2 linked regions of the Homo sapiens genome follow. The protein of the gene in region 1 purifies or fractionates together with the protein of each later gene. This does not show direct contact. Each region holds a gene or a part of one and is shown on either strand. Other genes may lie near its edges.

Region 1 (7,790 bases):
ACCCTTGGGGAGGGGTAGGGAACTCAAGCTGGGCCTTGACTCTCAGGTCTAACTTCGATTACACAGAGCTAGTGAAGGGAATTGGGAAGGAAAGCACTCAGGGAACTACGAATAAAGGTGGCTGCCTGGAATTAAACGTCCAGGGAGCAGTGAGAAAAAAAGGCTGGGGCCAGGTAGTGGCAGGCTTTGAAGGCTTGCCCAAGAGGCCTTTAACCCTTAGGCTGCCAGGTTATTTCCCTCCCATCGCCTGCAGCTTCTTTACAGCTGACACTTTCACCAGGAACCCAGGTACAAAACAAAGGTGGCAGCAGCTGCTTTTGTGATCAAAGGGTGCTCCTTCTGCATTTAAATTTGCAGGCTGCTACTCTGAGTGACTGAACAGGAAGCTAGCTGGTCCCTTTAGCGCTAACAAAGCTTGATTTAGGCTGAAAGATTAGAAAGCACATCTTATTCTATAAACGCTTCAACACTCTGTTATCCTTCAACAACCCTAACTAGGGCTGTGATCTAAGATTGACAATATTAACTTAATCCTTGTCAAATTTGTTTTCATTTTATGGCTCCCTGGCTCAAGGATCTACAACAACTCTTAGTACAGATAACAGGTCATTCAAATTTCTCTGCCTGGAATCCAAAGTTATACACAATCCAACCCTACCAAACCTTTTCAACTTTTATCTGTTACTATTCCTTTGTACCAACTTTCTTTTCTTTTTGTTTTTTTGAGACGGAGTCTCGCTCTGTTGCCCAGGCTGGAGTGCAGGGGCGCGATCTCCGCTCACGGCAGCCTCTGCCTCCCAGGCTCAAGCGATTCTCCAGCCTCAGCCTCCTGAGTAGCTGGGATTACAGGCATGCACCACCATGCCTGGCTAATTTTTGTATTTTCAGTAGAGCGGGGTTTCACCATGTTGGCCAGGCTGGTCTCAAACTCCTGGGCTCAAGCAATCCGCCTACCTTGTTCTCTCAAAGTGTTGGCATTACAGGCGTGAGCCACTGTGCCCACCACCAACTTTCTTTTCTTAGGAGGGCTAAATTACAACAGGGCTAGTGTTACAGTCTTAAATCAGTTGAGTTGAATTCAAATTAAGCAACAGTTTAGACCATTTTTTTTCAGAAAGAAACAAAAATATAAATTTTGCAAAAACGTTTGTAAGAATTTAGCAGTCCCAGTGGCTCATGCCTGTAATCCCAGCACTTCGGGAAGCTGAGATGGGAGGATGGCTTCAGTCCTGGAGTTAGAGACCAACCTAGGCAACATGGTGAAACCTCGTCACTACAATACAAAAATTAGCCGAGCGCAGTGGCACACTCCCTGTTGTCCCAGCTACTTCGGGAGGCTTGAGGCAGGAGGATTGCTTGAGCATAGGTCGAGGCTACAGTGAGCCATGATTTCACCACTGCACTCCAGCCTGGCAGACAGAGAGGGACCTTGTCTCAAAAAAAAAAAAAAAAAAAGAGAAGAATTTGCAGTCCTTATTCAAGATAAGTCCTTATTCAAGATAAGACATTCAAGATGTCTTTTCAAAATATGTTCTGAATCAAAAAAAAATCCAAAATTATTGTTTTCGTATCGCATAAATGTGAAAGACTCATCACAAATGACACTGATATAGTAATGTTCTATATCTTCGTAGGGGGTTGGATTGTATAGGTGTATGCATTAGTCAAAATCAGTGAACGTACACTTAAAGGTTTATATATTCCATTTTACATCAAAATAAACCGTCAACAAACTCTAGTCAATGACATGCATGCCAAAGTATTTAAAGGAAAGTGTACAGGTATCTGCAATTTAAATGGATGGATAGCTATATGATAAAGCAAGTAATATTAAAATGTTAATGGTAGGATAGATCCTAAGTGATGTGCTCCTTATAAAATTCTTTATACTTGGCTGGATATTCGAAAATTTTCATAATAAAATATGAGGGAAAATGACATTGGTAAGACACTGTACTTGTAAATTGTAAACACTGATAACACACTACATTTCATAAAATTGTAAGATGTTAAGTTTGGTGGCAGCACCAGGTATTTGCTCCTTGATGCTTCCAAACTACGCTGCACACACCTCTTACAGAATGGTTGCCTCTCCCAGCATACTATAAGTTCCTGGTGGGCACAGATCTAACCTAATTTGTATTTATATTCCTATTGCTTTGCATCATGTTTGGGGAATAATATGTATTCAACAATAGTGGCATGATTGAATTAAAGTGGAATACTGCTAACGAACAAAGTATTATATTTCTAGCAGATTCACTATTCTTTTCTTACATATTCTAAAGGTTAATACGCTCAATATCCAAGAGAAATGTGTCCTTACTTCTCTCCAAGCATACGAAATTTCCAAAGTTTTTTTAAAAAAACTACTCATTAGATAATTTTATATTGTTACTTAAACCCAAGATCTGAAGGCCTCCTAACATTCAATAACTTTTTAGTAGTTTTTTTTTTTTCCTAGAAGAGCAAAGTCTCAGAACTCCACGGAAGCCTGGAAATCGTTTTATTCTAATTTTAGATAAGCTGTCTGAACTAAGAGATCTCTGAACTGGTCAAAAGCAGGAAAGTGGGGGTCTGGGAAGAAGACAAAAACAAACGCCACATAAAACGTCATGGAGCAAACTAATCAAGAACTTTAGCAAGAAACGGAGAGAAAGTCTTAAGGAGGACACCCAGAACATCTCCAGCTCCTCCTGGCCCGTCTCCTCAACTCCTCTTAATTCCAGCCAGTCAGAGCGCGGGGCCATCTGCCACTCCCAGGATGCCACGCGACGGGAGCGGACGCTGCGAGGATGCACCTCCACACGTCAACCTCCCACAAACAGCATGGCTTCGTGGCGTGAGCACCCGGTTCGGACCTGAACGCCTGGGTCCGAGTCCCACCTCCCCCTCCTGCCTGGTCTGCAGCCCTGCGCAAGTCCTCTTGCCCTCGCTGAGCCTCAGTTTCCTCATCTGTAAAATGTAATGATTCCCTATAATTGGCTACAGGGAGATGAGAAGTGTAAATGGTTTTAAGGAAGACACAGGCAACTCTCTAACTTGTTACGGCTCTGAACCTCGCGGTGCTCACTAACCAGCCTTGAGACCAATCTCTCAAAGTCACCCCGCTCCTCCCTTCCCGCCCGGCGCCTGTACTGAGGCCGCTCCCTCCTGTTGGCCCCCATGCGGAAGGCGCGCGGCGCCGTCTGCCGTACCTGCAGCCACCTGGTCAGCGGGGCCCTCTTGCTGACCCACGACGAAGTCGTGCACGAGGCCCCATAGGGCACCCATAGGCGCCGCCGCCTCCACAGCCGCGGCAGCGGCCATAACGCGAACTAGAGACCGTGGGAGGGGATATGGGCGGTGGCTCGAGACGGGCTCTCCGCGCATGCGCCTCCCGAGCCAATCTCCGGGGAAGCGCAAGGGGGCGGGGCGCCGGGGTCACGTGCCTGCCGGCTTCTGCCTAGGCAGTTCCAGGGAGGGGCGGGGCCTGAAATGGGGCGGTGGCACCGAGAGGGAAGGCGGCTGCTGGGCACGCAGCCGGAGGCGATTGAGGGCGAATAATTCCCAGCCCGGCTCCCCGGGAGACGGGCTGCGGGGCGGGCACCTGGCTGGGTGGGGAGAGGGGCGGTACGCACCACGGGGGAAGCCAATGAGAAAATCAGGCCCAGCCCTAGGGGGCGGTGCTGTCGGTCACATGCGCACCTGGGGCGGGTGGTGGCGGCGGCGCGGGCACCGCGAGCCGGCGGAAGGGAGAGGGGCCGGCCTGGGGCGGGGTTAGGCAGGTGAGTGACAGGCTCCAGGGGGCCGGCCCCTGCCTGGTGCCCCGAGCGAGCCGGGAGTAGCTGCGGCGGTGCCCGCCCCCTCTCTCCGCCCCTCCAGCGGAGCTGGTCTCCGGCCGGGCACCGTCGCGGGCCCCCCTGGCCCGGCCACCTGGGACCGTGCTGGGGAGTCTGCCACTTCCCTCTCTCCCCTGGCCCGCAAAGTTTTGGCGGAGCCATCGCTGGGGCTGAGCGCGCCCCCGGGGGGAGATCGGGGAGCGCCCGATGCCGGGCGGCCGGAGCCATTGACCCGGGACGCCGCCGTCCGCTGAGCAGCCGACCACCCCGCCGCCTCCGGTGCATGGGGACTGGCTGAGGAGCCAGCATGGGCAACTGCGTGGGGAGACAGCGCCGGGAGAGGCCGGCAGCCCCGGGACACCCCCGCAAGCGAGCAGGTAACGATGGGGAAGGGAGCAGGGCCTCGGGCATCCCGCCAGTTGTCCCCCTCCTCGCCCGAGTCCTGGGCTTACCGATGGACTCCCCACTGGTGCTGGCGCTTGGGTTTCCCCGATGGGCTGCTCCGCAGCCAGAGGGGGCCGCTCCCCAGCGCCGGGCGGCCGGGGGAGCTGAGTTGGGGCAACTGCGAGCACTGAGCCGGCTGCGCGACCAACTCTCTCCAACTGGGTAGCTCCTGGTGGGGGTGGGGGCAGGAAATGTTTGCAGACCGCAGCGGGGCCGACGGATCGGGAGGAGGCCGGGGGCGAGGGCGCCGCTGGCCTGGCAGCTCCGGCCGGGGTCGGACGCCGGCCCGTCGGGGCACGGCGCGGGCAGCCAGGCGTCCCCAGAACTCGGAGCGAGCGAGGCGAGAACAGTCGCTCCTTCCAAAGACTGTGTCATTATCGAGCTGCAGATCGTGTCTGCGGGAATCCGACTTGCAAAGCAGCGCAGGACTCTGGGAAAGAAATCTTTATTTTTCCCGCAGGGGTTTTTAGAGCCTCTCGGCCGTCTGGGAGTCTATAAAAGATGGGGTGCGGGGTGAGAGTCACCCTTGGGATTGTTGGGATCCTTCCCAGCTTTGGGAGTGAGATCGCTCGCTGGTGATCCTCCAGGCCCGCGCAACGCTTTCTCACTTTCATGGTACACCCCGCCTGCCCTGGCATTTCGCCCCGGGAAGAGGTCTGTCGGTCATTTTTCTGGGTCTTACACTCACTTCCTTCTTTGAGGGTGTTGCAAGGACCCGCTGGGAATAATATCGTAGACTTGAGAGCTCAAACTTGTCTGGATTCCAGATGGACCCATCTCCTACTCTGTGTCAAAGCCCAGATCCTGAGAGGTTGAACACCTTGTCCAAAGTCACACAGCTAGTTAGGAGCTCACCTGGGGCTAGAACTCAGCCTCCTCTCCCACCCCATTGCCACATATCCCCTTATGTAAGAGGAGCCACAGGCAGAGTTGTTAATGAAGTGGAAACTCTAGTTGGAGTTTCCTGTCTCCCTTGACACCGAAGGTGTGTTGCTTGGGTTGCGGAAACTGGGAAGGAAGATGGGGGAACCAGGGGAAGCAGGGAAGGATGTCTGCATGGTGGACAGGATGACTTGTGGAGGCAGAAATGTGTTTTTATGGGAAGGATGCAGTAAAACTTATTGAAATTCTCTTGTCTGAAGGTAACTCTGGCCATTCTTCTGGCTGAGGAGAGATGACTCTCAAAACCAAGGGCTGGCTTGCTTTCATTCATTCATTTGTTCAACAAATATGTGTTCAGGCCCCATAATTGATTTTGCAGCATTTTTTGCTGTTGACAACTCTCTCCTACGAGACATTCCCCCCCTTCCTTTCTTGGCATCAGACTGTCTTGGTTTTCCTTTCTGAACACCCCTTTCCACCATCACCTTCTAGCTTGGGGGCACGCTGGTGCTTAAGTTTGACATTCTGTTTTTTCTCTCATTACACTCTCTCCCAGAGAAATCTTGTTCAGTCCCACAACTCTTTGTCCATTGGGAATACCCCTATGCTTAAACTTCAGCTCTTCTCTCTTGAACCCCAGAACCCCATCTCTAGATGCCCACTGGACACTGTGATATAGATATTCCCAGATTTAACACCTCCAAAACCAGGCTCTGCATCGCTCCCTGTCCACCAGCTTTCCTTCTTTACTCTTATGTTCTTCCAGCTGCCTAACTTTAGGCTGTGAAGAGCTCTTTCTCTCATGACTTTCTCTGCTTCCTTGTCGCCTGCCTCTCAGCCAGTCATTGGGGTCTGCTGGGTCTTCCTTCCGCGGGACTTGCAAACCTGCCCCTTGCCACCCTACTTTGTACCCTTCTCACCTCAAGTCAACCCTTGTCTCAGGCTGAAGTGAGGTACCCCCCAAAGGCAACTTCATCTTCAGTCATCATTCAGTCCTACACACAGTTGTCCCCACAGAAGACATTTGTTAAATTAACTTCTTCCAGATTTTATAGTTCTGTGTTCAGAATGTTTCTGTACTTGGCCAGGCGTGGTGGCTCATGCCTGTAATCCCAGCACTTTGGGAGGCCAAGGCAGGTGGATCACCTGAGATCAGGAGTTCGAGACCAGCCTGGCCAACATGGCAAAACCCTGTCTCTACTAAAAATACAAAACTTAGCCAGGCATGGTGGTGGCAGGCGCCTGTAATCCCAGCTACTCAGGAGGCTGAGGCAGGGAGATTGCTTGAACTGGAAGTTTCGCAGAGGTTGTAGTGAGCTGAGATTGCGCCACTGCACTCCAGCCTGGGTGACAGAGCGAGACTCTGTCTCAAAAAAAAACAAAACAACAGCAACAACAACAACAAAACACCTTTCTGCATTTTCCCACTCCTACAAGTACTTTAACTTTCAAGGCTGTTCAAGTGTGGGCCAGTCCTTTCTTTTAAGTCCTGATTTCTTTCCCTTCTCTGACATTAAGACCACCAGTGTTTGCTCGTGCCATTTCCTTCTTATCGAGAGTCTTTCATCCTTTGGGTTCATTTCAAGTGCCGTGCCTTGTTTGAAGCACCTTGCCTGACAAGTCTGCCATTTCCCCCTCCCTCCGCACCCCACCACACACACCCCGTGGAAGTGATTGCTCCTTCTGAGAACTCCTGCAGACACATTATCTATGCCACTTACTTAACAATTATGTACTCTGTATTATTAATCATGTCTTTGATGTTTACAGTCTTTTATCAGCAACTACATTGCAAGCCTTGAAGACCTGGGTTCTGTCTTATCCTTGTAGTATATGTCTCTCTCACGCACACACACACATTCAGCACTTAACACAATGAGTTGTACAGAAGTAGCACTCAGTATTTGTTGATTTTAGAAAGCAAACTCAACTTCATCCTACCATCTGCATTTTTCATATATCTGCATTTTTTTTTTTACCTGCTAGTTTATCATTGCTTTAGTTCTGTGGGTCCTACTATGAATAGCTTTATTCATAAAGTCCAAAGCCGAGGGGAACTCTGTAGGATGACAAATTTGGTACAAGGGAAGGAATCCTTCTTAACTCCACAGTGCACCTGGCATTCCTGTAACATCTGTGGCTTTTCCTTTGACAAGGACATAGTTTTACGTTGTAAGACTAATGCCTAAAACTCCCCCAGCGCCACTGTAACTCTTACCTTCCTTTGGCACTAATGTAATGGGAAGAAAGCCTCAACAGGGAGCTAGGACCTGAGTTCTAGTCCTGGGCCTATAACTCAGTGACCCTGGGCAAGTCATCTAACCTTTCTGGGTCACACTTTCAATATTTCAGAAAGGGGGAGGGTTATACAAGATCATTAGAGCTGTTTTATCATCTTCACAAAGGCAGCTGTTTAAAGCGAGAAAGTTATTGAGGTGAAATCTTTATGGCTTGTAATGTCACCCTTTGTCCTTAGTTCTGCCTTCTTAGTCACTTGGTAGACAAAGCAGAGACACAATACTGTCTGGTCAGGGATTCTTGCATTAGGGAGAAGGGAGAGGTCCTCTCGTCTCATCAAGTTTTGTGATTGTCACTCATATGTGTGTGTGTGCGTATGTGTGTATACATATATACGTATATATA
Region 2 (7,000 bases), on another chromosome or scaffold:
GGAAGATGCAGTGGGTTTGGTTCAGATGGTACCATGCATGACATCTGTCTATGCAAAGGTAGATGTGACTTAGAAACCTCATGAAGTAAATGAAAGAAACTATAGAAACTGCCTACCTAGCATATATTTGACACTAAACGTCTACAAAATGTTTGTTCACTTCCCTTCACAGTCTCTTTTCCCTAACTCATATACTCCATAGTGTTCCTTGCTACAGTGGATATGTCTTCTACTTGTCAGACAGGACAATGTCTTTCACCTATTGCAACTTCTACTTTTTTATTTTATTTGGCTTTAAGCCACGCATTCCAACAACAAAATAGAGTCTCTGCCAGTCCTACTACCATCTGACTGCTCTAAAACTTCCAAAACATAATGTTTCTACATTCCCATTGTGGCATATATCTACCTAAAAGACATAAATTCTAGGCCCGGCACGGTGGCTCACACCTGTAATCCCAGCACTTTGGGAGGCCGAGGCGGGTGTATCACCTGAGGTCAGGGGGTTCAAGACCACCCTGGCCAACATGGCAAAACTACGTCTCTAAAAATACAAAAATTAGCCAGGCATGGTGGCACACACCTGTAGTCACAGCTACTCAGGAGGCTGAGGCAGGAGAATCGCTTGAACCCAGAAGGTGGAGGTTGCAGTGAGCCGAGATCAGGCCACTGCATATTCCAGCCTGGATGACAGAGTGAGGCTCCATCTCAAAAAAAAAAAAAAAAAAAAAAAAAAGATACAAATTCTATTTCCAATACTCATCCCCATTAAATGAGTCCCAAAGATCTCTTCTTTTTTTATATAATTACAATATGTAAATCATTCAGATATGTCTGCAAAATTATTTTTTAAAACTATTCATACAGATCTTACTGACATTTTTGATTTATGGTTTTTATTTTTTTTTTGAGACGGAGTCTTGCTCTTTCGCCCAGACTAGAGTGCAGCGGCATGATCTCAGCTCATTGCAACCTCCACCTCCCGGGTTCAAGCAATTTTCATGCCTTAGCCTCCTGACTAGCTGGAATTATGGACGCGCAGCACCATGCCTGGCTAATTTTTGTATTTTTTGTAGAGTGGGGGTTTCACTATGTTGGTCAAGATGGTCTCGCACTTTTGACCTCAAGTGATCTGCCCACCACAGACTCCCAAAGTGCTGGGATTACAGGTGTGAGGCACCACGCCCCGCCTGACAACTGACTTTTAAATAAAGTATTACCTCCTCTAAATTTCACGACTATAAATAAGAAACTACCACTTGTCTAGTTTAACACATTATTAGCTTTATTTTGGCCGACAAAATTTTGGTTAAAGATGAACCTTTATAAACTAAACCTTCTTGTGCTTTAATAAAGCACACATTTAACAGAGCAAGTAAGTGTGAGACTTTGTTATTAAGGAGTCCTTTTCTTCTAGTCATAGAGAAGGAAAGATATATTGTTATCCAAAGCTATTAGCTACTGTTTCAGGCAGGTACTTGGAGAATGTAAAGAGAACACACTACACATTAGTACCAGCACTTAAGACAGAAGGGAAAAATGAATGGTGAGAACAATTAGAAATAACTACAAAAATATACTTACAGCCTCAAACTGCAATTGGCTATCCTTTAAGAAATCCTGAATTTTATCCTTGGGTAAAATACTAAATCTAAATCGAAGGAGATCCATTTCTTGTTGAATGAACCAGCGTCTAAGTTCTTCACTGAAATGAAGACAGAAATTATGAGTACAAACTAAAAATCCAGTAATTATTAAATCTAAGAAATGTTTATAAAACAATATTCAAACATCAGCAAGATGCCAATGGACAGCAGTTAAAAACATGCAAGTCCTCTATCACGGTAAGGAGAATATCAATACCACATATCACAATCTTCTAAGGATGGGTTGGGTACAAGGTATAGGGGGTGTTAAAAATTAAAAAGATTAAATACAAGAATGCTTCGAGACTAGCTGCATTATTTTTAAATAACATAAAATACTTCATGCATTTAATGTAACTGCAAAATATTCATTTTATGTTAGAAAATAGGGGCTGGGCGTCGTGGTTCATGCCCGTAATCCCAGCACCTTGGGAGGTCAAGGCAGGCAGATTGCTCGAGCCCAGAAGTTTGAGACCAGCCTGGGCAAGTTGGTAAAACCCCATATCTACAAAAAAATTAGCCAGGCATGGTAGCATGTGCCTATAGTCCCAGCTCCTCAGGAGGCTGAGGTGGGAGGATCACCTGAGCCCACGGATGTTGAGGCTGCAGTGAGCCGAGATCACACCACTGTACTCCAGCCTAGGTAATGGCATGAGACCCTAGCTCAAAAAAAAAAAAGAGAGAGAGAGAAAAGAGAAAAAAAAAAGAAAATGGGGAAATGGGGCACTCCTTTGGCTTGAGGTGTCTTTATAAATGCCAAATAAAAGACACCAAATTTTTTAAGGCAACTTTGATCAGATTAACTTTGCAAAGGAAACTTTGCTTATGGCTTTATAATTGATAATTTCACAAAATTTAATATGCACATATATACCACAATATTTAAAAGCAATAACGTTCATTTATAAGGCAGATACTAATGGGCATTATCGTTATATAATAAAATAATTACCCTACTGGATGCAAAATATGATTTCACATTTTTAGGAGATTTTCACAGATTGTCAGCAACATATTTATTATATAAATTTCACAAACTACATATGCTTTTTTACAGAAGAAAAACTCTAGAACCAAAACTGGTAAGTAATTTCTCAATTATTATCTTGGGATAGTAAGCAATTCCAGAGTCTCACTTGATAAGCTTATTAATTTTAAAAAAAGACAGCCATAACTAAATTATGTGACCAAAATTAACATGTGAGGGAAAAACAATTTTTAAAAAAGCAACTAACTTTACTACCTCTGGGTGGCACTATTAACTTAAAAGAAACCAACTACCAAACAAAAATATCTTCGATTTAACTGGCCCATAGAGCTCAAATTCCAAAAACCTGTATCAAATTCAAGTGTGGGTTTCATTAATTGTTTCTTATAAATATTACCATTTTTTTGCAGGAAAAATATCAAAAGTCCTTCTTCCCAATAAAATCCTTTCCAATTTAAAATCCCAAATGAAGAGTCTATCTCACAAACTTAAGAAGTGTTTCATCAGGCAAAATTCTGCGATAGAATTTTTTTCAATATTTTTAAGTAAACAATTTCTTCCAAACAATTTACTGTCAGTGTTCAACCCCATGATCAACCGGCTCCTGATGTTATTCTGGGTTTTCCTATGTTTAGCACAACACATCAACTTACCACACACCAATTTATAACCCATGACACCAGATTTGACTGTGAGAATATAAACATATACTTACGACTGGCAATAAGCAAGCCGCAAAATAAAATGAGAAATATGATCTCTTCTTCGTGGTTCATATTCATCTTCTAAGTTTTCCTTAAAAATAATGACACATGAATAAAATAAATGCATTAGAATGGTAAGAGGTGTAAGGAAATACTGAGCCAGCCTAAGCCAATGGTAAAGTAAGTTTCAAAAACATTTCTTTTTTTAGAGATGGGGTCTTGCTCTACCACCCAGACTGGAGAGTAGTGGTCAATCACAGCTCACTGTAACTTCAAACTCCTGGGCTCAAGTGATCCTCCAGCCTCAACCTCCCAAGCAGCTGGGACTACAAGCGACACCCACCATGCCCCGCTAATTTTTTATCTTCTGTATGATGGAGTCTCAATATGTTGCCTAGGCTGGTTATGAACTCCTGGTTTCAAGACTCCTACTCTAGTCCCTCAAAGCACTAGAATTACAGGCATGAGCCACCACACCCAGTCCCAAAACATTTCTTTTTTTTTTTTCCTTTTTACTTTAAGTTCTGGGATACATGTGCAGAATGTGCAGGTTTGTTACATAGGTATACGTGTGCCATGGTGGTTTGCTGCCCGTCATCTAGGTTTTAAGCCCCACATGCATTAGGTATTTGTCCTAATGCTGTCTCTCCCCTTGACCCCAACCCCCTGACAGGCCCTGGTGTGGGGTGTTCCCCTCCCTGTGTCCATGTGTTCTCATTGCCAAAACATTTCTTAATATGCTTTTCAGGATAATTATCATTTACCTTAAGCTATCAATCAGATGAAACCGAGAAGTAAACTAATCTTGACAAAACCCCTTGAGTTTGGACCGCACTATTTTCTTCCCACCAACCCCTCTCTTTTAATTTTCTTCTTATCCAGCCTATATCCAAGGTGCTCACCACCTCAACCACTTCTTACACCAACCTCAGCTTCTTTAATTTCAACCATTTGGCAAAACCTAGATTCTTAATCTACAACTACACTCTGCAGTCCTATTCTCAAAATGCTAAGAACCTCTGGAGAAAAAACACAACTATGGGAATTTGGAAAATATAATTTCGTGGCCTATAATCTCAACTAGATCCTTACCAACAGTTGGATCCAAAATAATAAGAACAAACATGTCTTGAGCACTCACTAGGTACCAGGCGGTGCCCTAAGAATTTTTAAGGCATGAACCCATTTAATCCTTTAAAAAAAAAAAAACCCTATGAGGGAGGCACTACTATAATCTTATTTTACAGATAAGGAAACTGAGGCACAGAGAAGTTATGTAACTTGTTCAGGGTCACAAAGCTTGTCCAGAGTAAGCAGCAGTGTTGAGATTCGACACAAAATCATCTCCTTCCTCACTTCTCAGAAAATCGTCAGTCTTCACCAGTTGTCCCAAGACCCCTACTATAGCACCTTTCCCTTCTCTCTGAACAGATGACTTCACCTACTTTACAGAAAATAAAGGCTACCAGGCAGAATCCTTCAGTCCCAAGCTTCCGCATACACATGTTGTGTTGCCTTCCATACATCTCTACAAAGCATCTCCTCTTCCTGGCATGTAAAGCTACATTAGTCCATTCTCATGCTGCTAATAAAGACATACCCAAGACTGAGTAAACCCATAAAAGGAAAGAGGTTTAACTGACTCACAGTTCCCCAGGGCTGGGGAGACCTCAGGAAACTTACAATCATGGCAGAAGGGGAAACAAACACGTCCTTCTTCACATGGTGGCAGTAAGGAGAAGTGCTGAGCAAAATAGGGAAAAGCCCCTTATAAAACCATCAGATCTTGTGAGAACTCACTATCTAGAATAGCAGCATGGGGGTAACCACCCCCATGATTCAATTACCTCCCACCGGGTCCCTCCCATGACACATGGGGATTATGGGAACTACAATTCAAGATGAGATTTGGGTGGGGACACAGCCAAACCATATGAAAAGCTAATTCCTGCACCTAAACCCCGCAACCCATTTGCTTGTGCCTCTTAAAGACCCTGACTTATCAAATGCTCTCTCAAAGTTTCAACTTCAAGCTCCCCTCTTCCCCATTCTATTCTAGATCTTCTGCTCAGCTTATAAACATGTTTAAGTATCTCCTGTCATATATGTACAAGTGTGTGCTTGTATATCTTCTCTTTTCCCTAAAACAACCCCTATATTCTGCCCTATTTCTCTTCTCTTTTCAGCTACACATTTTAAAAAAGTACATCTTCTATATCCACCGCTCCACCTTCCTTCTCCAACCACTGTCATTGTTCTGGTCTCTGCCCCTATCTATAAGGGCCCATCCAGCTGCTAAATCCAATGGACACTGTACAATTCATCTTACATAATCTATCTTAAGCTTCTGAAACTATTGTGGTTAAAAGCACCACTACAGAAACAAAATACCCAGATTCAAATCTTGGCTCCACCATTTACCATCTTATGAGCTTGGGCAAGTTATTCAGTCTGTGAATAAATAGGCTGTATCTGTAAAATAGGGATGATAATAATACCCACCTCATAAGACTGCTGTATGAATTACATACATGGGTTAATATATGTAATGCACTTAGAACAAAATCTGGTACATAGCAAACATACTATTAATATAAATATCTGCTGTTATTCCCTATTATCATTATTAATATCATGATCATTATTATTGAAACTCTAGCCCTCCTTGGCTTCTATGACACTACTATCCTGGTTCATCTCCTACTTCTGAGAAAGCTCCTTTCCATTCTCCTTCCCAAATTCCTCCAATTCCACTTTACCTTCAATATTGGTATTCCTCATGTCTTAACTTCCACTGTCATCTCTTCTCACTCAAATATTTTTCTAGGGTGCTCTTACCTACTCCTGATGATTCCAACCTTCTGCTAAATCTACTCCCACCACATGTCTTCCTGTATATTCAGACCTGTATATCCAATTGTCCACTAGACATCTCCACAGGCACCTCAAATTCATGTTAAGAACTAAACTCTACGTCTTCCAAGACTTGCTTCTCCTCCTGCATATCACATCTCAAAATATTACCACCATCCACTAATTTTCCTAACTAGAAACCTGGGTGTCATTTATAACTCTTCTCTCTCCATTCCCCCTACAATCAGTCACTAAAACCTTTTGATTCTACCTTCTTAATGTCTCTTCAACCGGTCCCCTTCTCTCATTTAATTCAGACTCTCATCATTTCCGGGCTTCTAACTGGTTTCCCTCCTAACAGACATGACCCTGTCAATCTGCTGCTGGCAGTCATCTTCCCAAAATGAAAATCTAATCACATCTGTCAACATGCAGCTCCACTACTACCTCTTCTGGAAAGCCTTCCCAAACCTCCCCAATCTGAGCTGCATAATTATGTATGTTTTTGGAGTTCCTGGAGCATGCATCTATAAACACAGTCATCATCCTGTATTGCACGGGATACATTTGGCATGTCTGGAAATATGTAGGGGTAGAAGCCAGAGATGCTACTGAGCATCCTACAGTGCACAGAACAATCCCTGCAACAAGGAATTATCAGACCCAAAATGATGTTAGTCCTGAGGTTGAGAAACCCTGCCATATTATAATCATCTGACTTCATGTCAATCACCCCTAATACACTGAAGAACCTTCAGGCTAATGATACATTAGTCTTTATAAAAGCCCAGTGCCTAATATAATATCTT

The links. Proteins that work in one complex are often made in the same cells at the same time.
Region 2: the proteins of MMS19 (region 1) and PRIM2 purify together in Homo sapiens (affinity purification with western blotting; 5 studies listed by BioGRID and IntAct, with this or other methods). This does not show direct contact.

Annotation. Positions count from the first base shown.
Region 1 is NC_000010.11:97,495,076-97,502,865, forward strand, and holds the start of MMS19 (MMS19 nucleotide excision repair protein homolog), read right to left. Parts: upstream 3,348-7,790; 5' UTR 3,310-3,347; coding exon 3,198-3,309; intron 1-3,197. Other genes in the region: UBTD1 (ubiquitin domain-containing protein 1), read left to right, coding at 4,129-4,198. UniProt on the Homo sapiens protein: Key component of the cytosolic iron-sulfur protein assembly (CIA) complex, a multiprotein complex that mediates the incorporation of iron-sulfur cluster into apoproteins specifically involved in DNA metabolism and genomic integrity.
Region 2 is NC_000006.12:57,320,630-57,327,629, reverse strand, and holds part of PRIM2 (DNA primase large subunit), read right to left. Parts: intron 3,430-7,000; coding exon 3,350-3,429; intron 1,706-3,349; coding exon 1,585-1,705; coding exon of another isoform or gene 1,567-1,584; exon of another isoform or gene 1,263-1,566; intron 1-1,262. UniProt on the Homo sapiens protein: Regulatory subunit of the DNA primase complex and component of the DNA polymerase alpha complex (also known as the alpha DNA polymerase-primase complex) which play an essential role in the initiation of DNA synthesis.